Regions from separate parts of the Homo sapiens genome. Here all the other regions are linked to region 2. The links come from fine-mapping of genetic effects on gene expression. A gene starts in region 2. Each other region holds a variant in brackets. All regions are shown on one strand. Distances are from middle to middle.

Region 1 (6,065 bases), 90 kb after region 2:
CTTCTTTGTGTGTGTATGTGAATATATATGTGAAACAGAGAGACTCGGGGGAGAGGGAGAAAGAGATGGGAGTGAGAGGGCAGAGAGAGGAGAAAGTATTAATCTCACAGAACTCTTAGTTTCCATTCTGATAGCATTTATTGACTATATAGTCTGTGCCCCTAATGGTCCTATAGTGGAAATCTATATGGTCCTATATGGAAATCTGCTTTGTGTCAGTTCTGTATCACTTCTTTTGGGATTCTGTTTCTCCCAAGGTAATGTGATTCAGTGGGACCTCACCTGGCTGTAATTACCTTTCACACTACAGGGACAAGGTCTTCACTCACTCTGACTAGTTCAATTTTTTTTTTCTTCTAGACCTAATAATTGGTTCAGTGTTCATTCTAAAGCCCAAACACGACCAATCAATGCCATTTGGGTGATCAAGTATGGATGTTGACGGGGAGGGATTTGTGATGATTGTTGTCATCATCTTCTCTTTCTTTCTTTTTTTTTTTTCTGGAATCACCATGAGGATGATGTAAACCTAGAGATACTACTGGTAGCCATTTTTATCACCAAGTGATAACAGAGATGGCCTGAGAATGAAGCCAAGAAAGAGCACCACAGAACTAAGAGAGTAAGTGAAATGCGTATTGTAGCATCATTTGATCTTCTGAGCCAGGTTGCCCCCAAAGCAAACACTAACCTGAGACTTCACAGTGATGAGAGTTATTCTCCTTTTTTGGGCTGAATTAGTTTGATTTGGGTTCTTGTCACTTGCAACAGAAGAACAGCTTCTGGATACCTGAACATGTGGAAGTTCCTGGAGGGTGGTGCACCCAGGAACTTGCACATGTTCCAAGCAAGAGAAAGCATGGAAACTCTGCACCCCTTCCCCTCATTCCTCACCCTAGTATCTCTTCATCTGTATCCTTTGCAATATCCTTTATAATAAACCAGTCAACTTAAGTTATTTCCCTGAGTTCTGGCTGCCTTAACAAATTAATTAAACCCAAAACAGGGGTCGTGGGAACCCCAACTTGAAGCCACTTGGTCAGAACTTCTAGAAGTCCAGACTTGTGACTGGTGTCTTGGTGCAGGAGAGAAAGGGAGTCTTGGGGACTGACCCTATCTCCAGGTAGATAGTGTTGGAATTGAATTGGAGGATGCCCAACTGGTGTCTGCTGCTTGGTGTGTGGGGACGAATCTCCACATCTTTGTTACAAAAGTCTTCTGTGTTGATGATTGTTGTGGTGGTGTGAAAGCAGAAGAAAAGCAAAGTTTGAGAGAGTTTTTCCCTACACAGATAGTAATGACAGTGTGAGGAAGGGAGCAGTTGCTGGACTCTAGAAGGAGAGAGCTATCAAGAGGGCTTCCTTGACAGGAGCTGTCACCAGGGAAAGCAGCCAGCCAGAGGTGAACTTGCAGGGAGGGAGCCTGGGAAATGACTGCTGAACCTCTGCTGAAGTCAGAGGGTGGATATCCCTTCCTGTAGTTGACACAGGTCAGCTTCCAAGGCTCAGAGCAGGTGGAGAATGCACCTGAAGGGGCATGATAGGGTTTGGCTGTATCTCCACCCAAATCTCATCTTGAATTGTAGCTCCCATAGTTCTCACATGTCTGGGAGGAACTTGGTGGAAGGTAATTGAATAATGGGGACAGGTTTTCCCCATGATGTTCTGGTGATAGTGAATAAGTCTCACGAGAGCTGAGCTGATGGTTTTATAAAGGGGAGTTCCCCTGCATACGCTCTCTTCTTGCCTGCCACCATGTGAGATGAGACCTTACTCCTCCTTGCCTTCTGCCATGATTGTGAGACCTCTCCGGCCATATGGAACTGTGAGTCAATTAAACCTCCTTCCTTTATAAATTAAACAGTCATGGGTATGTCCTTATTAGCAGCATGAGAACAGACTAATACAGGGCAAATAAGAGATCCTCAGTGGAGGTGCATGCTGTCACTGTCCCTATATTATAGATGAGGAAATCAGGGCTCAGTGAGGCCATGGTGATAACGGGCCAAAGATTGTATCAATCAGTAGCAAAGACAGATGGCAACTCAGTTCCCCGACCATAAAGCTGTGCTCAGCGTAGTCATCCTGGCCCTGGGGGTTTTGGCTGGACCTGTTTGCCTCTGAAAACAGACCCACAGGCCTGTGTGCCAGGCTGGAGGATGGGGACAGACATCGATTGGGCTTCTCCTTCTTGCCAGGCACTGTGCTAGGCATTTAACCCACAACAGGCCTATTGAGATAGGTGTTGCTGATTCCATTCTATATGTGAACAATCAGCCTCAGAGACGCTAAGTAACTTGCTCAAGGGTACACAGCTGATGAAGATACTGACCTAGGTTCCAGAGGTCAGATTCCAGAATCCTTGGTCTTTCCATTATATCCTGGGGCAGAGACCTAAGGAGCAGAAAGGGGAAAGGAGAGGGAGAGAGGGAGAGGCTGCTGTGCGAGTCATTTCGAGATGGTGGGCAGGAACGGGGGAGAATTCAGGTGGCAGCATCTTTCTTGGGCCCAGGAAGCATAAGGCATGTAGGCAGGAATCCCAG[G/A]GTGCCATCTGGAGTTCCAGAACATCCCTAAGCAGCCTTTATATCTGCAGGCCTGTGCTGGGCCGCAGACTCACATGAAAGCATAAAAGCCTTCTGCAGCAGATGGGAATTTGAAATCACGTGTTGTGAGCAGCCAGAGCCGGGAGCTGTGACTCCTGTGCGGCGCTGTCAGTATGTCTGAGACACTGCTTCTCGTCCTTCCTCCCCTGCCTGTCCTTTCCACTCTGAGTTTCTCCTCCCTCTCTCTCCTTTGCTTTCACTATTAAAATTTTATTTTATATATTTTTTATTTTATTTTAGCTTGAGTTTTCTCAAGTTTCCTCTGCCTCCTCCCTGGACATGGAGACACATCTTCACTTTGTTCTTCAGGCCTCTCAAATTCAACGTGTTCAAGTAAAAATCCCTTTCTTCTCACTTAGCAAATCTGCCTCTCCTCGTTGTTGGTTTTGCATTTTGCCTTCTGGCACGGGATGCCTGGATGGAAGGCTGGGAAGAGCCAGCTTTGCTTCCTGCCTCCCCTCTCCTTTCCCTCCCTCCATCTCTAGTTGGTTTCCTCATCACTCTCGGTGCCCCTTCTGCTTTCTCTGCCTGGTTTCCGCTCTCTTCATCTTTCACTGAAGCTCTTTAGATATTTTTGGAGCCGAGTCCCTGACTGCTTGGTCTCTTCTCTGCTTCCTCCAGCACATTGCCACAGATATCACTTGAAAACATTGTCCAGGTGATACCAACAGTTTTAGCAAGAAGAGAAAATGGAGGCATTTTCCAGGTGACTTTGGGAAGGAGAGTGTAGTGGGCAGGCTCACAGCCCCCACAAGACTCCAGCCCTAATTCTGGGGGCATTGCATGTTAGTTACTTCCATGGCAAAAGGGACTTTGCAGAGGAAATCTAGGTTAGCAATGAGTTGACTTAAGATAGGGACATTATCCTGGATTAGCCAGGTAGGCTCAGTGTAATCACACAAGCCCTTAATTGCAGAAGGGGAATGCAGAAGGGAAAGTCAGAGAGATTTTAAGAATGGGAAGGATTCAAAGCTCTGTTGCTGGCTTGAAGATGGAGGGGGTCCCAGGTCAAGGAAATGGGAACCTCAGTCCTACAGCTGGAAGGAGCTGAATTCTTTCAGCAACCCGAGTGAGCTTGGAAGGGGCTTCAGCCTAGAGCCTCTAGAAGAGAATGCAGCTCTGCAGGCACCTTTTCAGCCTTGTTAGATCCTGAGCAGAGTTCAGCCATGCCATGCCAGACATCTGAGCTACAGAACCCTGATATAATGAATGGTTTTTGTTTGTAAGCCCCTAAATTTGTGGTACTTTGTTATGGCAGCCCCAATACAAACTAATACAAATAGAAAACTAACACACACAAAAAAGCCAGAAAGATAAATCAGAAACCAATAATAATGATTATGTTTATGGTTATGAGGGAACAGAAATAGGAAGGAGACATCACTGACACACAGGGAAATTAGCATACACTGAACATTTGCTGCGGACCAGACACCATGCCAAGTCCTTTGACTGCTATACCAGACCGGGATCTGAGTTGTAAGGAATAGAAAGGGTCTTTGGCTAATCTAAGCCAGAAAGAAAATTTATGAAAGAATATAAGGCATCTCCCAGAAACTCCAAGAAGGCTGGAAAACAAGGCTTGGGAAATAGTTGGGAATATAGAGGAAGCAAGGTGGCCAGAACTCAGCCAAAATTGGACCATAGAGCCAGGGTGTTGGGTGGACCACAGCTACCCTGGCTGTCCCCTGGCATTGTGGCGGCTTTGCTACCACAGCCAGCTCTGGCCTTTGGCCATTGGGCATTGCTAGCGGTACCACTGCTCTAGAAAATGGGATGGTTCTGGTGAATACAGTATTGCCTAAATGGATCCTGCCTTGTCCCTGCGTCTGTGGATCATTACTTTGAGATTTAAAACTCTGAGCAGGTGTGTCTGGCTGGGTCACAGGCCCAGAAGGTTCAACTGCTGTGCAGCCAAAAAATGACTCACAGAAAATGGCAAATCATCCTGTACCATCTCATTTAATCCACATAACAACCCAGCAGGGAACTACTATTATCCCCACTTAATAGATAAGGAAACCAAGGCTGCCAGGAAGGTGAAGCTCCTTTCCCAAGATCCTGAGCTTGTACAGGGCAGAGCTCAAACTTGAACTCAGGTCACCTACTTTATATGCACATCCTGTGGCCTCTTCTTGCAGTGACAGTCAAGTTTCAGATCCTTTCTGAGGAAAGAAGAGGCAGGTGGATTCTATCTGGTGCGTGGTTCAGAGAACTCTGGGGAGACAGGTTGAATGGGAGCAGTAGCTGGCCAAACAGCTCTGACCCGTTTGCTTTTGAGGCTTGGGCATGGCAGAACTTTAATTATTTTTCCCTATTTAGTGAAATATGCTTTCAGACATCTGTTCTGAGTTGGTCCCCTTTTGTTAGTATATATTGTGTAGCATGGCCTACTCTCTCTCAACTTGAAATTTAGACAAGGGATGTTGAGGCTCTGCTGATGAGACCACCACTGGGGAACCTCATCTTCTGTCTTGCCTCTCCTTGCCCCCTTTACTGTCCTTCTCCACCAAGCATTGCAAAGGAAATGAGATGGAATCCCACCCACCTGGGACTCTGCCTGGGTACAATGGACGCTAATCATAGAGACCAGTCTGTGGGTTAGGGGCTCCACCCAGTGCACTCAGTACTCTGAGCCCTATCTGGCATCCTTAACACAGCTCTCTTCTCCTGCCCCATTATCCTCCCAGCTCTGAGCCAGGCCAGTGACAGAAAGAACAAAAAGAAGGCCTCGTTTGTGATCTATTTCCTGATTTGAGATATCTGGAGCAGGTCCAGTCATAGGCCACTGATTAAAAGTGGTTTAGTTACTGTCACTGGTGTGAGGACCAGGCTAAATGGAAACAAGCCAAGCTCAGGCTCCACAGAGAGGAAACCCCAATTCAAAAGTTCCCTGGGATGACCTCCAATAAAAACCATCTGTGAAGGTGACTTATGAGCACTGACAAGAATTGGTTCATTTAGGCGTTATTTATGATAAATATGCAATATATACGTATACTCAATATAGATATACATTCAATATTCAAATATAGAAAATAAATATTCGATACATAAATATTCACTAGTTTTGCACACATGTAGGCCTATGCAGTAGAGTTTAGGAATTAAGCATGTGAACTCTTGATCACCTACTCTGTGCTAGGCATCTGACACACATGATCTCACTTAGTGTTCACATCACTCTCCGAGGAGGATATCGTTGTGAATATCACTGATATTTTACAGGTAGCAAAATGGAAAATAATAGCAGAGATAATGTAAGGGAAGTTGTTTTCATACATTATAAAGTACAGTGGGATGGTTGACTACAATTACTGCTAATTATGATTAATCATCATTATTAGTTTTAATAATTACTGAAATAGAGAGGGTTGATGTTAACCCATGTTACTAGGCCACAGCCAACCAGGGTGTCAGTCAGGAGGGACTGAAAGTTGAAGGACAGGGTCATTCCTGTCCA
Region 2 (6,065 bases):
GTAACTGAAGAATCAGAAAAGAAGTGAAAATGCCCTGCCCTGCCTTAACTGATGACATTCCACCACAAAAGAAGTGAAAATGGCCGGCCCTTGCCTTAAGTGATGACATTACCTTGTGAAAGTCCTTTTCCTGGCTCTTCCTGGCTCATCCTGGCTCAAAAAGCTCCCCCACTGAGCACCTCACGACCCCCACCCCTGCCCGCCAGAGAACAACCCCCCTTTCTTTGACTGTAATTTTCCTTTACCTACCCAAATCTTATAAAACGGCCCCACCCCTATCTCCCTTTGCTGACTCTCTTTTTGGACTCAGCCCGCCTGCACCCAGGTGATTAAAAGCTTTATTGCTCACACAAAGCCTGTTTGGTGGTCTCTTCACACAGACGCACATGAAAGTTACCATCGCCACTTTGCAGATTAGAGAACTGAGGCATAGAGGGGGAAAACAATTATCCAAGATGATCATAAGAGGTGGAACAGGGATTTGAACCTAGTCACTCTGCCTCTAGATCTGAAGCTCTTAATCAAGGAGCCTGGGCTCTTGTTGGAGAAAATGCTTTATCGATGTGAAAACATTCACACACAATGCCTGATAGCATTGTGCTGAAGTGTGGTTCCAATTATAAACGTGGTAGGAATTCAGTCTGGAGAGGAACTCCCAGTGCCTGGGCATGACTGTGTGCTAGGCATTGTACTGGGTGTTTTTCATCCTTCCCATTTAAGGAGACGGAGCATGGCATATATGAAAGGAGAAGGGGGAGCTTTGGAACTGGACAGGTAGGGTTTAAATCCTGGTCCTGCCATTTACAAACTGTGTAACCTCTGGGAAATTACTTAACCTTTCTGATACGGTTTCTTCAATTGAAAATAGGGATTGTAAACAGCTACTTTACAGAGGAGGGTTTACTGTCATAAAACAGTACCAGCCTATGGTAGATGATGCTGTTGATTCAATAGATACTGATGAAGTCCCACATATCTGGGAGTAACACTATCAGCCAGAATAAGCCAGGTTATGCTGCTTTAACAAATCCCACTGACTTAACATAAATAAAGTTTAATATTTGCTGACACTACTTTTCCAATGCAGATTGGCTGGGATTTTCTGCCATCTTTACACAGAGACTCAGGCTGGCTTGGGGAGGCTCCAACTTTGTACCACCATGATTGTCAAGATAGGAAAAAGAAGACATGGGGATTTGCTCACTGGCTCCTAAAGGTTCCAAGTGAAAGCAACACAATCACTTCTGCTCTCATTCCATTGGCCTAAGCAAGTCCGATGGTCTCATCTAACTTCAAGAGGATGGGGTAGTGGATTTCTACCACATCGCAGGGGAGGGGAAGAAGTAGAAAATATTTTAAAATACTACTGTAGACACAATGTGTTTATCTCTACAATAGATCTGCTAAATCCATATCTTAAGAGAAAACCGAAGCTCTGAGAGGTTATGTCATTTGACCAAGGCCACACAGCCAATCCTCTGGGAAGCCAGGACTCAACCTGCATGCCACTCATCCTGACTGTGGGATCTATAGGCACAACGTCCACAAACTGTATAGAAGCAGAACAGTTTCAGGATGGGGGTGGGTGGCAGGGAGGCCCTGCAAATGCGGTGGACAGAATAGGAATTGAATAGGCATGATGCGCCTTTGTGTCTGTGTTCTGTCATTGCTCCTGGGGAAGGGAAGAAGGGGCAGGGAAGTTTGTGTGAAATATCAGTAGAAGGAAAGTTTGGACAGGTAAGAATATCACGCGTCAGAGTACAGCAGAGACACGTGTGGAGGATGAGGGCAGTGTTTCAGGCCATTACTCTGGCAGCAGTGAGGAGGCTCCCGGGGAGGGTTGGGGAGAGCGGGCTGTTGCTGGAGTCCGGGGTAAGGTGACCAGGGGTAGACAGGAATGAAGGCGGCGGGAATGTAGAGGAAGGGCTGCACCTGAGAGCTGCAGAGGAGGCCCCAGTGAGGTCCACTGGTGGAAAAGAACCGCCATGCGATCTGCAGAACACCAGACCTTCTTCAGCCTTCACTCTTCCCACCCTAGTCTGGTACATTGCACCACTTGTTAAAAAAAAAAATTTCCCTAAGACCTCTTTTTCTCTAGCCTTCTTCCTTATTTTTCATGGTCTCTTCTTAGAACGGCGGCAGCCACGCCGCGGTGGGAGGCCCTTCCTGCCTGACCCTTACCGTGCGGGGTACCGTTCCTGTCACCATCGCCAGGATCTGGCCCTTTCAGTGAAAGGAAATCTCCCAAGGCCTAAGGAGGCAAGAGGCCTGCAAATCGCCTCCTGCTCAGCAAACGGGTTGCTCAGCAGGCCCGGGGTCCTGGTCCACCCCAGGTCCCTGGTTTGCCCACCTCCGATGGCGGCCTTCGCTGGCAGGGTGGGCGCCTCTGGGGAGCCAGCTCCGTCCCGGCGCCTTTAGAGCCCCATCTCTTCCACGTCCCTGGCCTTCCTCCCCTTCCAGGCGGCTGTCCCCGCCGGGGTCCAGATGGTGTCGGAGGGCCGGCGGTTCGACGGCGGGCCCGGGGTTCAGCCTCCCGGCCTCCCTCCGTCCCTGACTCTCCTTTCTTCGGAGAGGGCGCGGGGGCCGGGGCCAAAGCGCCGCTCTTGGGGTTCTCCTGGACTCGGAGTTGCCCCAGGCGGGCGCAGCTCTGCCCCGCGGGGTGCCAGCCTCGGGCGGGCAAGGTCCGTGAGTCACCGCCTGTAACCGAACACCAGGCCTCCCTGCCCCCTCCCCCAGCTCCGGCCGCCAGGCTGCGGCGACACCTACAAGAAAATGAAGGGGCGCCCAGGCCCGCGGCGGCCCCGGCCGTATCGCGAGCAGGTCCCGGCGGCCCCCGGCTCGCGGCGCTCTTTCTTCCCCGGCCCCGGGGCTCGGCCAGCCGCAACCGCCGCCCCGGCGCCAGCAGGAATCCAGGCCGAGCGACCGGCCCCGGAGCCCGAGGCGGCGGAGGGCCCGCGGTAGCTGCGACTGGCGAGCCCGAGAGCGCCCGGGGAGGGGGCGCCCGGCTTGGAATTTCCCGGTCCCTTCCGGCCCAGCGAGGACAAAGCACTCCTGGCCGCCGCCGCCGCCGCCGCCGTGGCCTACGCCGCGCCGCACAAAGGGCGAGTCGCGACACGCTCCCATCCCCCTCCCAGCTCACGGCGGCCCCGGCCCCGGGTGGCTGCAGGGAGGTGGGGGAAGCCCTGGCTGCACCGCCCCTCGCTCCCCCTCCCCTGGGGCCGCGCGAGCGCCGCCCCCGCCCCGTCTGCGCGTCCTCCCGGGGAGGGGTTGGGGGGCGCGGCGCCCCACATAACACTCCCCCTCCTGCGCTGCGAGCCACCCTCTCCCCTCCCTCCTGCAAACACCACCGCCTCCCCTGCCACCGCCGCCACCTCGCCCGACGCTCCACAGCTCGCCGCGGCCGGGGGGCGGTGCGCGGACCGTGCGCGCCGCGGGCGCCAGATGTGCAGTCCCCGCCGCCGCCAGTGACCGAGCCGCAGTCCGAGCGGTATCGGGCCGCCTCCCTGATGCTGCGGGGGCGACCTTGAGCGTACAGCGGCTTCCCTCGGTGGGGACCCCGACATCCCAGCGCTGTGCCCGGTCTTGCCCTCTGTAGCCCGGCTCGCCCCGCGCTTGGACATGGAAGGGGCCGCCGCGCCTGTGGCGGGGGACCGCCCCGACTTGGGGCTGGGGGCGCCGGGCTCTCCCCGAGAGGCGGTGGCGGGGGCGACTGCAGCCCTGGAGCCCAGGAAGCCGCACGGGGTGAAGCGGCATCACCACAAGCACAACTTGAAGCACCGCTACGAGCTGCAGGAGACCCTGGGCAAAGGCACCTACGGCAAAGTCAAGCGGGCCACCGAGAGGTTTTCTGGCCGAGTGGTGAGTGGGGCAATCCTGGAGGGTGCGGGGGGCGCTGGGTGGACGCGGCCGGGGACTGAGGGCGTGCGAGGCGGGGGTCTGTGCGCCCTGGGGCTCTCTTGACAGAGAGGGGGCTCATTGGGAAGCCCCGAGACAGACTCCTCACTCTTTCTCCAGCACCCCGTGACTCAGGCGTGTCTCTGTCCTGAAACACTTGTTACATCCTGTCTGCACATATTTTATTTTATTTTTTGGTTTGTTTTTAAAAATTTAATCCTAGCAGCAAAGGAATGTTTTAGATTTGCAAACACTTTGCAGCGTTGGGACGGCCGGGGTCTCTCTCCCTCGCAGGCACTCATTTAGACCATGCCCCGAAACGTCTTATTTCCACAACTCTCCAAAGAACCACATTCCCAGCTAGGAGCTAGCCCCTCAAGTCCGGTGTTTTGTAGGTGTCCCTACCCCCTTCCACCCATCTGCCCGCAGCTCCTTGCTCTGCATCCTCCCACTCAGACTCTGCATCGCCCTGATACTGCTGTGACTGCAAGGGAGGGCGACTCTTGCCTGTTTTTGAGACAAGGTTAGGGAGCAAAAATAAAGACTACTGCAAGCCTGAGGATTCTAACAGTTTGCATCATGGCTTTGGGAGGACCGAAATGTCCAGGGCATGGGTAGCTACAGAGATAGCTGTGCTTAGTTGCAGCAGGCTCAGTTGTGTTTCAGCTCCTGGTTGCAGGGCTACCAAACCGCTGAAGGGGTCTGGCCCCGCTGCTCTTGTGACAGCTGACACCCTGCCAGGGTCCTGGCACCATTTGCACAGCTCCAAGGAGTGCTTTGAGTGCCTTGGGGTCTGTCTGCCTTGTCCCAGCCTTGGTTTGTTGTTATTTTCACTTCTGCAGAACAGGCCCTTGAAATCCACACTGCTTGTGGCTAGAGAGTTGGGTTCAAAGTGACTGACTGTTGCAGAAAGATTTTGTGTGGTGTGTGGCAGAAAATTAACATGGTTCTTTGATTTGAAGCAGATCAGATGTATTCTAATCGATTTAGGGCCAAAGTCAGAAACTGATTATGGGACTCCTTGTGTGCACTTTTGGGGGTGTTTTGGAGGCTCAGGTTTGCTTATAAACAACAAATGACTGCAGGGAAAAAGGAAAATGAGCTGTCAAATAAAATAGCAGCTTAGTATTGACATGTTTCTTTTGCATTTCGGCAGGAACAGTTCTGTGAAAAAAACATGGGGGTGCCAGTCAGCAAAGTTCAGTCCCCAAATTCTCAAATATCTGGATACCCGGATAACGCCCTCCCAACCCATTTCTCAGATTTGATGTTTGGGTCTATATAACTTCGTCCCATAACGTTATTTTAAAAAAAAATCTGTTATCAATTAATTGGAAATTTGAGATGGCGTACATTTCTTTTTAAAGCTGGCTCTGTAATAAATTCTACAGCAAGCAAGTAGTTGAGAATTCACTCTGGGCAGGTGCCATTTTCGTAGGATGAAATTGTTAAAGGGGAGGGTTGTAAGGGTGGCCTCTGATGAAGGCAATTTCAGGTTTGTGGAAGAAGAGGCTGGGAAACGTGCACTTCATTCATGCTTTTCTTCTGAGGTGATATTCCCCAGGCTGGATGTTGAATAAGCAAAAACTAAGCTTAGATCCCTGCTCATGTTGTCTTAATAGCTGCTGAAGAATCGCACTGGGAAGGTGGGAAGCAGAATAATGAAAAACAGACGCAGTTCGAGCTGCAGGTTGAGAATGTGAGGCTATGAGGGGTTGTTGAAGTGGTAAGGGTGTGTCTAGGGTCTGTGAAGGGACCCCAAAGTCTAAATGCTGGGGCACTACCTCAGACCTTTCTAACGAACGAACCCTTGTCTTATGGCAGACGCCTTTCTGAGCGTCAGTGGGACTTCCTGTCAGGCGTTCTTGAGCTGTCTGATCCACAGACTAGGTTAGAGTGAAAGGGATTTGCATCAGTAGGCAGGAGTCCGCCTTTCTCTTTTGGGGGATGTCTTTCTCTGTATTTGCAGAAACTGAACATTCCGTCAGGATTTAGTCAAGCGGCCACGAGGGGGCGCCCTGAGAACGAGAGAGGCTTCTTTACCAGCCGCAAATCTGAAGTCCCGCTGTGTTATTGTTCAGCCCTAGTTCATTTTCCCATTGTGCTATTAATTTCAGCTAAATCTCTTGTTTTACCCCAAAATTATGTAAAGATTTTAAATCTGGCAGCAG
Region 3 (6,065 bases), 67 kb after region 2:
GTGTGTGTGTGTGTGTGTGTGTGTGTTGATTAATACTGCTTTCCCATCGAAGTGCCAAGAACACAGGCTAATCTAGATTTCTATTAATCTTGTGTCAGTGGCAATGACAGTTTTACTGGGAGAGGCTGATAAACATCAGTCTGTGAGGATAGGAGTGGGCCATAACATAAACACACTTCTCCAGAACGGCTACAGAGCAAATGAGGCTGCCCAGACTTGGAATGAAAACTCCTGGTGTGAGTGTGTGCATGTGCAGCGGGTGCCTCTCACACGCACGTGTATTTGGAAGCTCATATGGTGCCCCAGGCACTGCCAGGCGGGAAGAGAATGCATTTTCCTGTGCGTAGCCATTCCATGCCTCTTCTGATTGACAGGGCACACTTCATAAAGCTTCCAACCAACTTCCTGCAAGCAAGTCAGGGGCCTTGATAAGAAAGTGGAATTCAGGGCAATGAAGTGCAATCTGAGCCCGGAGAATGCATTTTCTGAGGCTGGTTGTACACCAGCTGCTTTCAATGACATTCCATTCATTCAGGGATGACTTTTACAAAATAGGCTGCTTCTAGGGGCTGTGACCACCACAGAGCCTCGGTGGTATTCAGGCTGGGCTCTCTCTGGGCATGTGAATCATGCAGCTCATTTCCAAGCCTCAAATGGAAATCAGCTTGGAGAATGATGGAAACCTACAGGGGCTCAGCTTGCAAGGCTGGCTTAGAGTGGAGTGAAATATACAGGTGACCCAGGGACAGGGTGGCACTGTGGTTTGAAGCTTTAGAGACACGGGGGTTTATATTGCTGCATATTAGTTACTCATCTCCTTAAATGAGTAACCTCAAACTCCTTAAACCTCAATTTCCTCATCTGTTAAATGAGTTTTTCAAAAAATGTGTGGTAAAGTGGACATAACATAAAACTGACTATTTTAACCTTTTTTAGGCATGAAAGGCATTCACATTGCTGTGTAAACCAGGTTTTTGTTAAGATTAGATTAAATAAAGTGTTTGGAGCAGTACCTGATAATTGGAAGTTGTTCAAAAAGTGGCAACTAAGTTTATTATTATTATTATTATTTTGCATTATATATTAATTATCTTGTGCTTTTCAAAATATAATGCCTGTACCAGTGACAAGTGTTTCTTGGGTGTGGGCAGGTGCTAAGCAGTGGATGATACAAAGATAAGGGGAGGATGTGGAACCTGCCAACTGCCTCAGGAAACTCAGAGTCTGGTAGGGAAAGCAAATATATATATGTATATGTATGTATATATGTGTATATGTGTATATTTGTACATATGTGTACATATACATATACATATATATGTAAAAGTGCTGTCATAAATGATAACACATAAAACACTTCAAGAAACCAAAGGAGAAGAGAATGACTCCAAGGTGTGTGGAGTACAATGAAAACAAGGCTAGATGAAACATTTGCATCAAACTTGAAGGTTATGAACCACTGTTACACTCACGGTGTCATCTTATTTTTTTTTTTGAGATTGAATCTCGCTTTGTCGCCCAGGCTGGAGTGCAGTGGTGTGATTTTGGCTCACTGCAATCTCCGCCTCTCAGGTTTAAGTGATTCTCATGCCTCAGCCTCCCGAGTAGCTGAGATTACAGGCATGCACCACCACGCCCGGCTAATTTTTGTATTTTTAGTAGAGACGGGGTTTTTCCATGTTGGCCAGGCTGGTCTCGAATTCTTGACCTCAAGTGATCCGCCTGGCCAAGGTCTCATCTCGATTGATTTCTTTTTCTTATTATTCTCATGATGATCCTGTGAGCTAGAACAGGGAAGGGATCATGGATTCCCATTTTCTGGTGGGTAAACTGAGGCTCAAGGTCATTAAGTGACAGATAGGAGCAGAGTTGGGACTGAAATATGATGACTCAAAACCCAATGCTGTGAGTCAATTAGTCCATTTCATCTTGAGTCACAAGACAGGCAAAATACAGTTCTGATCAGGGTGTGAGTGGATACAGAGGTGGTATCACCAGTTGTGTAGGTCAGGGTTTTTCCGCAGTGTGATATGCACACCACCGCAGATGCAGCATAATTGGGTAGACCACAGAGGGAGAATTCTTAAATTAATAGTTACACACTTTAATGTTCATCAGAAACATCAAGCCAGTGATTTTGTGAATGTTATTTCTCAAAGCAAGTCTAAATTAAAGTTTAAATAGAGCATCCATTTAAAGAGTAATTTCTAAGTAAGTTGCAGAGCTTGTAGTCTGCAGATTTGGTAGAACTTGTGATGGATGCCAAGGACTGCAGCTAGGAAACACTGACCTGCTTGGGCTGAGTGGTCCTTTATGAAGACTCAGGGCTGGAGAGAAAATGGCGATCCAGCCAGCAGACCCACCCAGGTGCCCTTCATCCACTCTGTGTGCTGTGTGGTGTGAACTGATCCAACACAGACATAATCTGGAATGCTAACAAGTCTCCCTGGGTCTTGCTTCTCTTTGTAGATTGCTGACTTTGGGCTTTCCAACCTGTACCAGAAGGATAAGTTCTTACAAACGTTTTGTGGGAGTCCACTCTATGCATCTCCTGAGATTGTCAATGGGAGACCTTACCGAGGGCCAGAGGTGAGCAGCTTTCCCAATGTGTATGGGGCAGGGGAGGGGAGGGAGAAGAGGGAGGAAGGGCAAAAACTGGATTCGAGAAATGCTTAAAAA[A/C]ACAGAGCCTAAAAAAGCCAGCAAGGAAAACGTTTCCTTATACGATTATAAAAGCAGTTAATGTATACTCCTGGGAGGAAATTTGGGAAACCCAGAAAAGCCTAAAGGAGAAAATAAAGGTACCTGCCATCCCCCTAGAAAAGATAATCACTTAAAACTCTAGTGACTTTTAAACTTTTCCCAATGTAGATCTCTGCATTTCAAAAATAATTGAGATCAAGTTAATAAAAGGCAAGATATACATATGTATGTGACACACGTATGTATATCTTGCCCTTTACTATGAAAACTATCTTGTGGCAATTTCCAAATTCATTATTAAAAACATGATTTTAATGACATTTTATCAATGAATATACCAAAATTTATTTAGTAATGTCTAGATGTGAACATTTAGTTTTTTCCCTATTATATCAAAACAGACAAAACAAACAAACAAAAAATTGCCTCACTCTGGGGTAAATATCTTTTTTGTATATATTTTTGGCAGCATGCATATCTGACTAAGGAAATACATTTTAATGACATCTTCTAATTCATGAGAAATACATTTCCCTACATGCTAGCGCTTTCAAGGGCCACTGTAAGATATGGGTATATGGAAATTTTATTTTGAAAATGAGTGAGTTGTGAGTGATGATTCTCTTTTTGAAAGATGGTTCTCTTTTCAGAGTTCATCCACTCAGTATCCTTTAAATAGCAGCTGCTCAGTGTGTTGAAATGTTTTCTTTCAAATATTTATGTGTTTGAGAGTGTTTGGGGGCAGGGCTGAAGGGTAAAGAGAAGGATGCCAAGACCATCTATTAACTGCAATGAAGAGAAAGTCTTTCTAAAATAAGAATGTGAGGGAGGAGCATAGAACTCAATTTACAAACTTGTAGAAACTCGACACGAAATTTCTCATAGATAATGAATATTTTGGTCTTCGATGACCTGTTTTTGAGGTTCCAGGCTAGCAGTCTGTGATCTGGTCAGCAAACTCCTTTATTTGGCCACCTTAGTTTTTATTAAAAAAATTGAACAAACATGTAATAATTGGGAGATTTCATGTAAAAGTTTGGTTTCTGACTTCTCTTGTAAAACCAAAGAATCGAGCAGTGCTGGGCCCATGTTACTACATGGCAGCAATTAGCTAAGGAGAGGCTGTCTGCCTAAGACGGGTGAATGTACTGTACAGTTTGTCTCCATCCCCAACACTCTATGTCATAACCCCAATTCTTTCTTGCTTTGTGTATATCTGTTAAGATTTCAGTTTGTAATTCCTGATTCATTTGAAGAAAGTGCAGGAAGGAATTGATTCCTGGATTAGGAATGAAGAGCCCCGCATCCCAGTTTTACCTCCGTCACTGGGGCAGGGCCTCTGGAGAAACCATTTAGGTTCTTCGTGCCTCAGTATTCTCATCTTTTAAATGGGGCTGAAAATAGTCCTGGCTCTAACTGCTTCACAAAATTGTAGTGAGGATTAAAGAAGATAATCTGTTTAAGAAAGTTCTTTACTAGTTGGGACCACTGGCCTCTGTTCAGAATGGAAAGGTCAGGCTCTGTAGCAGGTCCCAGCTGCATTGCTGTCAGGTGTCAGGCTGCACTAGGAACCTATCTTCCAGGTGCTAAATTCAGTTCCTGGGGCTGCTGGGGGTGGCTGCTCACAGGCTATGATGCTAATGGTTTGGAAGGCATCTTGGGATCTGTTTCCCAGCTCTCCTATATGTGCTGTCTCTCTGCTCCAGGTGGACAGCTGGGCCCTGGGTGTGTTGCTTTACACTCTTGTTTATGGAACAATGCCCTTCGATGGTTTCGATCACAAAAACCTCATTCGGCAAATCAGCAGCGGAGAGTACCGGGAGCCAACACAGCCCTCAGGTGCGTGCCCTGTGGAGGGAGGGTCAGAGGTGGAGGGGAGAGAGATCTGCTTACCCAACTCTTATTTTCTGCTTTTGTTTTAGTATGTCTGTCTGGAGTCACCTGGTTTTCCTCTTTCTTCTTCCCAGAAGTGTCATCCTTGGCAAAACTGGCTTATTAGGCTGCTTTCCCCAAACCTTCCCAAAGGAAATTTTCAGAGCACACCTTCTAGGAGTCCTGTTTGCTTGCTTTGTGGATCTGGACAAGTCACTTAATCTCTTTGGATTCAGATTCTCCACCATAAATAAAAACGTTGGAAAAGATATTAGATGAGGTCTCTCCCAGTCTGAGTAGACATAGAAACCACTCACCTGAGAATGTAAATACTGTGAGGGTGGCCACTGCTCTGTCTCTCACTACTGTGCCACTGGCATGGGGCATGGCTCATGGGTTCTGTCTCATTATTGATTTCTGTGTAACAACTCTACCCCATCTGCCCCTACAAAACAAACTCAGTGGCTTACACAACCATGAAATCATCTCTTTCACCCCTGTGGGTTGGGAAGTGCTCTTATGGCCTTCCTCTCCTACAGTTGTAAGCAGATGGCAGTTGGGGCTGCTGCTGGGGCTGAATGGTGGACCTTCCTCAGTGCTCTCTGAGGTGCCACCCCACAGTGGCAGCTTGGGGTTCTAAGAAGGAGGAATAAAAAGTTGCCGAGCTTTCTTTCTTTTTTTAAAATTTTTCTTGAGAGAGTGTCTCGCTCTGTTGCCCAGGCTGGAGTGCCAGTGCCATGTCCATGCTTGTACCCAGATTGTGTCACATCTGCTGTGTTCTATTGGTCAAGACAACCACGGTCATGAGCTTCATCTCTTGATGGGGAATATCATGCCTGTATAGAGAGTGTGTACAGCTGGCCATCATTGGTCATTTTTGTTAACAAATGAAGTTAACATTGGCACTTCATTTATATACATACTATACACACGCATATATATATATGTATATCTGTATACCTACACATACACAGTTGATTCTCATTCATAGTAGTTATGTTCTACAAAGTTGCTACAAACACTGAATTTGTGAATATTGAACCATTGCTCTTAGGGGAAATAGAGGGTTAGGTTCCTGAGAGCCTCTGCTCACAATATTTTTGTTAACTGATTGATATATAACCTTGTTTTATGTGTGTCTCTGTTTAAAGACACCTTATTTAATCTATATTATTAATTCATTAACATCAAACTCAACAGCCAACAGCACTGTAACTCATGCCTAAACAAAACTGATCTAAGACACTTATCTTCTCCATAAGGCACATCACAGCCTTCTTGAGCTTAGGAACACTGAACAGTGCTTCAGCACTGTTTTAGGGAGGCATTTAAAAAGAGGAATCACCAATAAAAATTCCAAAAAATGTGAGAAATACAGCACTAAATAGACTGAGAAAAGGACAATTTGTATAATAGTATGAGAACTGAAATAAGAAGGCAGAGTGTTGCCTTGTTTGACCTCCGCTGTGAATACATATGTGTGTTGGGGTGAC
Region 4 (6,065 bases), 27 kb after region 2:
TGAATTAAGAAATAATAGGATGAAAACTTCCCAAGTATGCGTATTCATGGGTGATATTAAATCAGTCTTCAGAAATTGGAGGAAAGTTTGGATAGAACTGAACTGAAAACAGCGTCTCTGGCATAGCTATGTGAGGACAGACATTAGATGGAGGTGAAATACACCAAGCTGCAGCACAAGTCATGATTTGTCAGCACCCTGAAGAGTATCTGCCACTCCCATCTCGGTTTATTAATGATGCAACAGTTCTGGGGACTTGGCTGTGACTGGAGCCAGCCTCCCATGTAAATGTTGAATTTTTTTTGTGGCAGTTTCAGCCCTGCTGCTCACTGTGGCTTAGTATTTGATTAGGAAGGACCCCTTGCTCAGAGTGTTTATCCCTCCTGGAGTGGGAATCAGGACTCTCTTGTTGCAATTCCAGTGCTGCTGATAACTTCGTGAACTTGGGGCCTGTATGTACTTTAACCTCCCTGGGACTCAGTTTCCCCATCTGTAACATGAGGAGATTGGCATAGAGCATTCTAAGTCCTTACAGCTCTAACATCTACTCATGATAACAGTCCTCATTTTGGCTTCTGCCGTAGGTACTATTTGCCTTCTCTGCCTTCCATCATATACACAATCTGCCATGTTGCCACAGCAACCTTGTGAGGTTGGTACCATCATCATCCTCATTTGCAGGTGAGGAAACTGAGCCGGTGGCGTGATTATCCGAGTCCCTCTCCTTATAGGAGTCGCCTTGGCTGGGTTGCTGTGACTGATGACAAGCCCAAGGTGCAGATGCTGGATTTCTTAGCAGTACTGGCTCGGGTTCTTCTGGGTTTGGAGGTTGATAAATAAAAGTTGCACAACCTTAAGCTTATCCAAGCCTTGTTATAAACAGTGTCAGAGTGATCAGATGCTACCAGTTGAGGCTGTCCAAGTTGTAAGCAACCTCAGCCCTCTGGCCCAGCCCTTTCTCTCCCTTCCCAGGGCAATTGTAACCTGGAAGAAAAACAGTTGCACTTTAGAATTCTGATTTGGTGTTGCATTTGGCTTCAGAGACGTGAACGTCCAAAAATAAACAGCTGCTTGGCAACTCCAGTCTCAGCTAAATGGCCTGGCATTTTCAGTCTTTCTTTGAATCTGATATTGTCTGTGTTAGCGTCTCTTGTGTTACCAGAGGCTTTTTCGTGCTCCGGGTTATGTGTAGACTGTGAAGTAACCCATCCACACCCACATTCCCTGGCATCACTTCATCCACAGGCCCTCCTTGGGCTGGGACTAGGGAGATACCCATTGGAAGCAAACTTTCCATTTACCAGGGGTAAATTAATTCAAGTCACTGAGCCCCCTCAAGGAAGCCTGTGTTTAATTCCTCTGTGTATAAATGGAAGGTTCATTAATTTTCATCAGTCATCTAGTATGTAATATAACTGCTTCCTGTTTAAGCTACAGAACAATAGGTGTCGTCAGGGCCACATTTACCCTGCTTTAAGGTGACTGCTCTCAAACCTCAGAGTGCAGCAGAATCACCTGGGAGGCTGTAAAGAATGCTGATACCAGGTCTGCCCCCTACCCTGAACACTGCCACCTTCATTCACTAGCTCTGGGGTGGGCCCAGGAATCTGCATTTTAGCAATCAGTTTCCCCTTTCCCCCTAACCAGGGGATCGGAGGCAGGTGATCTGCTCACCACCCTTGGACAGATAGTGCTCTAGAGTCTCTGACTGTCCTTTTCAGGCGGGTTTGTGGCTCACTTTTGGCATGCCCACTCAGCACGAACTTTCCGGTGGCCTTTTTGCTATTTCTTTGGTTCTTGCCTGGTCAGCCACGGTTTGTATCTTATGTTTACAAACCTCAACAGGGAGTGTGAATCTGCCCACGGTTTCTTAGTCATTAATTCCACTTCCCTTGTGGCATCACCACTTGCAATGACATTCTTAGCTCAGTCTTTGAAGGGGAGAGGGGTGGGGGTGAGTCTTAGAGACCAAGGAATGACTGTCCCTGTAGATAAAAATGTCCCAGCCCTGAGGTCCTCCTGAGCTGGCCCAGGCCCAGTCAAGCACGAATCTGCTTTGTTTTTTATGTTCTGAAAATAGAATGCATTTTTTATGGCAGGAGAGAAATCAATATCATCACAGGAATCATCATCTCTTTTATGTAGAATTTTGAGAAATAGAGGTTTGAGAACCAAGTTACAGAGGATTAAATTTTCAGAACCTCTTACAACATTAAAGGGCTGATGAGGGCCAGTGAGGGGATGCCACTCTTTGAAGGAAAAGCTCCTAGCTACACATACCATGCTCCCTGGCTTCAGTGCCTCGCCTCAGAGCCTGTTGATACAACTCTTGGCTTCCAATCCATTTCTTTCTGAAATACATTCATGTAGGACATGAACCAACAGGCTAAAGAGGAAGGGAAGAAGAGGCCCATGGGCCCCCAGGCAGAGCTGGCTTGGTTCCCATGGGGCCCGTTGCATCACAGCAACTTGCTGGGGTGTTGTTCTGAGTTGGCCAGGCCCCTCCATAAAGAGCCCGGGGTCATTTAATTAATTAGGGGCTTTGTTTGCAAGATGGGTGGCATCACCGTGGTGACTGTCCTCGGCCAGAGGCTTTTTGAGTGAAAGCCACATGGTGATCCTGGGAGCTTTGGACCGGTGTGGCCTCGGTGGGGCTGTGCCTTGCCCCACACTCTGTGCATCTCCCAGGCAAGAGCAGGAGCACTTTACAGCCTCCAGCCGGGCTTGGCTGCCTGCTCCTGCTGCAGGCGGCCTCTGGGCTCCTAGGTAAGGAGAGATCCCCTGAGCTGCCTCTGACTTCGTGCCCTGCAGCTCCCGTGGAACGTGCCTGGGTATGAGATCACACCTTGTGAATGGCAGGGAAGTTGCCAGCTCGTGTTGCTGGGATTAGGATGCAAACTTGTTCTCACTAAGTGATGCTAATGCCATATTTATGACTGTGTTTCTTCCCTGCTGCTCAGCCCTCCAGTCCCTCCTTTTGGGACCTCACATATGACCCTGTAAAACTTCATCTGCTTGGA[G/T]GGGGGTCCATCTCACTAGGCTTTAGGGACCCTTTCGGATCCTACAGGAGATTCTGTTCCCTGTGATGTTTTCTATTCATCCCAACTTTATTCATAGCCTTAAAAATCAGCAGCCTCTGGGCTCGAATTCTAGCTCCACTTTTTTTTTTTTTTTTTTTACAGGCTATGTAACTTTGGGAAATATTTATCTTTCCTGGCCTCAATGTTCTCATCTGTAAAATAGGATTGTAGGTAGGCTTAAATGAGATAAGGTCCACTGGCACATGATTAACACCTAAGAAATATTAATTATTGCTATTATTAAGAATATTGCCACTGATTTAAAAATGTTGAGGGTCAAAGACGAAGCACTAAGACCTGGCTACTCCAAGTGTGGTCCCTGGGGCTGGCATCACCTGGGACCTTGCTGGAAATGCAGAATCCCAGGCTGGATACCCAGACCTATGGATTCAGAATCTGCACTTTTTCAAGATGCATGGGTGACTCCTATTTGAGAGGCACTTCAAGAATACTCCTTGAAGTCCAGCTTATATCAATGAATGAGCATGCAGGGAGATGGTTGCAAAAGGAGGAGGGCAGGGATTCTCTTGGTTAGAGCCTCGACGACATACAACCTGCCCAGACTCTCTGCCACGCCCCCAAGGCTGGTCCTACACTACACAGGCGTCCTCTCCATAAGACACCAGGACACCCTGGGGCTGGCCGGATATTAATTTTAACCTGCTTTTGCCACTGTGCAAATGTGGGGAGGGGAGGATATGTGTGGGGGTGGAGAGGAGCCAAGAGACCTATGATATGATTTGCTGTGGGCTCATTACCTCTTAAGTGTGGTTTATAATCACTGCCATTCAGTGAATACTGTGTGCTGGGGCCTTTACTTACCTAGTTTCCACTCCTCACAACAACCCCAAGAAACAGGATTTTGTAACCCCATTTTACAGGTGAGGAAACCGAGACCTGGGAAGTTTGGGCTTGCCTGAGGTCACCCAGCCGGTGACAGTCTGAGCATTTACTCTTCTACTCTGCATCCCCCAGCCCTTCCTAGGTCACCAAGCTCTGAACACCCACAGCAGCCAATGTGGGAGAGGATGCCCAGCAGGCCACAGAGCAGGTGGTTTTTGGTGATTATTCAAAAAAGGAAAAACCTCCAACCCTCAAGAGGAGGCTGTGCCTGTTGCATGTAACAGAATTGGCTGGGCTGAGTTTGCCTCTGAAACAGGCAGGCACTGCAGGGCGGGATTCACAGGTTCTCCACCAAACCTGCTGCTGCAGAAGGTTTAAACATTAAACCATAAGGTGGCCTTATTTAAAAGCAGACCATTTTATAAGGCACATGGTACTGTCTAGACTTGGGAACATTTATGAATGTGGCTGTACTGTGAGTCGGGCTCAAACACCTGAGTTCCCTCCTCCTCTCAGGCTCTCTGACTTGTACAGGAACAAATGGGATTTTTAGGGGTGGAGGGTGTGTGATTTCAGACATTTGGTAATCTCTTCCTGCTGGGCCCCTTCCTTACCTCTGTGTTTCTTTGTAGATGTGAGAATTGAGGAAAACTGGAGAGGAGGTTTCCTCCGCAATGCCGGGCATGTCTGTGCATTTCTTTGGTAGCCCTGGCCATGAGGGTAATTATGTAATTACTGGTGTGAGTTTTGCTTATTGCCCGTACCCTCCCCACCCCACCTCCCACCTTGAGGGCTGGAGCAGTCGCGCTGGCTCCCTTTTGTGTAGCCGGTACTTGGTAGGTTTTCAAAAAGAACAAGTGGATGAACAGTCAAATTTCATAAAGGCTGAAGTGTGAATATCTTGAGGCTGAGTTTTGATTTTAAGTAGGAACATATTTGTGCCCTGTTCAGCTGAATGGTGAAAGGAGACAGTGTGGGAGCGGGTGGAGAAATGCTCCTGGGATTGCTTTTTGGGTTCAAGATGTTCATCCTCCTGTCTGGTTTGGACTCAGGAGCCCTGCTGATAATGGTGTGTAACCAGCTGATCTGATCTTCCTGATTTCAGATGAGGTTGCAATGTAAAGACCCAGGATGGAGATGCTCTTGTCCTTTATGTACTATGAAAACATGTCCCTAAGACCTCCACTCACTGTCTCTTGAGGAGCCAGGAGGAATTCAAGTTTGCTCTGAAAAAGAAAGGAAGAAGGGAAGGTTCTACTTACAGAACACTCACTCTGGGTTAAAAAAGACTGACACTTATTTAGCAGTTACCCCCTGGCCCAGGTGTATTCTTGAGCACCTGATGTGTAATCCTTACCAGGACCTATGAGGCAGGTACTATTATTTCTCTACTAGATGAATGAGAAAACTGGTGCACAGAGAGGTTATGTAACCTGCCCAGGGTCACACAGCTAGAGGGTGATTTTAGCCTGGACTTAAAGCCATGTTCCTAAGCATTATGCAATACTGTCTGTGCACTGGCTCAGTGTATCCTTCAACTTCCTGAAGCAGATACTTTTGCAGGAGCTGCGTTAGAGATTTTCTTTTTTTTTTTTTTTTTTTCCTTAACAACCCTTAAACAATATGACAATCATTCTTAGCTCCCTGGGTCCTACAAAAACAGGCTGAATATGTGGCTAATAAAGTAGTTGGTGTGAAATGCTCCAGAGAAGATAAAATGGGAAGGGTATAGAGAGAGGGAGGTGGCCATAAGTGTGGCCTTATCAGCTAGAGGGATCAGGAAGGATCTCCCTGAGAGGGTGGTGTGAAGCTGAGGCTTAAATGAGAAGGGTGCAAAGATCCCTGGCATGTAAAGCATTCAGCACGGTGTCTGCTCCATATATTAAGTGGCTAATGAATACTGGCCATTACTATTAGTAGTAGTAGTGCTTTTTTGTTTTGTCATTAACCGGCTGTCTGAACCTTGGATGGGTCCGCCACCACTCTGGGAGTAGAGCTGAATGTCTTCCCTCCAGCCTTGGCAGGTGCACAGATGAGAGTGATTTCTAGCATTTGTCTCCTCCTGACTTCCTGTCACCCCTTTGAAACAGGGGAGCAGAATGCACCCTCTTTTACATTTTCAGTGGAAAAATCATTGTAGGA

The links. PIP is the estimated chance that this variant, and not a neighbour inherited with it, causes the effect.
Region 1: its variant is fine-mapped to the expression of NUAK1 in cerebellum (GTEx, PIP above 0.99).
Region 3: its variant is fine-mapped to the expression of NUAK1 in whole blood (TOPMed, PIP above 0.99).
Region 4: its variant is fine-mapped to the expression of NUAK1 in whole blood (TOPMed, PIP above 0.99).

Annotation. Positions count from the first base shown.
Region 1 is chr12:106,045,834-106,051,898 of GRCh38, reverse strand. No RefSeq gene overlaps it. Among named protein-coding and RNA genes, the nearest start is that of NUAK1, 90 kb to the left of the region's middle. The variant G/A (reference allele first, on the strand shown) is at 2,543.
Region 2 is chr12:106,136,207-106,142,271 of GRCh38, reverse strand. NUAK1 (NUAK family kinase 1) reads left to right here and starts at 3,318. Exons shown (of 7, transcript NM_014840.3): 1 at 3,318-3,858. The coding sequence starts at 3,619. RefSeq lists enhancers at 1,377-1,996, 4,388-4,889.
Region 3 is chr12:106,069,248-106,075,312 of GRCh38, reverse strand. NUAK1 (NUAK family kinase 1) reads left to right here. Exons shown (of 7, transcript NM_014840.3): 5 at 2,470-2,589; 6 at 4,407-4,539. Among named protein-coding and RNA genes, the nearest start is that of NUAK1, 67 kb to the left of the region's middle. The variant A/C (reference allele first, on the strand shown) is at 2,680.
Region 4 is chr12:106,109,016-106,115,080 of GRCh38, reverse strand. The region is part of intron 1 of NUAK1 (NUAK family kinase 1); the gene reads left to right. Among named protein-coding and RNA genes, the nearest start is that of NUAK1, 27 kb to the left of the region's middle. RefSeq lists an enhancer at 5,970-6,065. The variant G/T (reference allele first, on the strand shown) is at 3,021.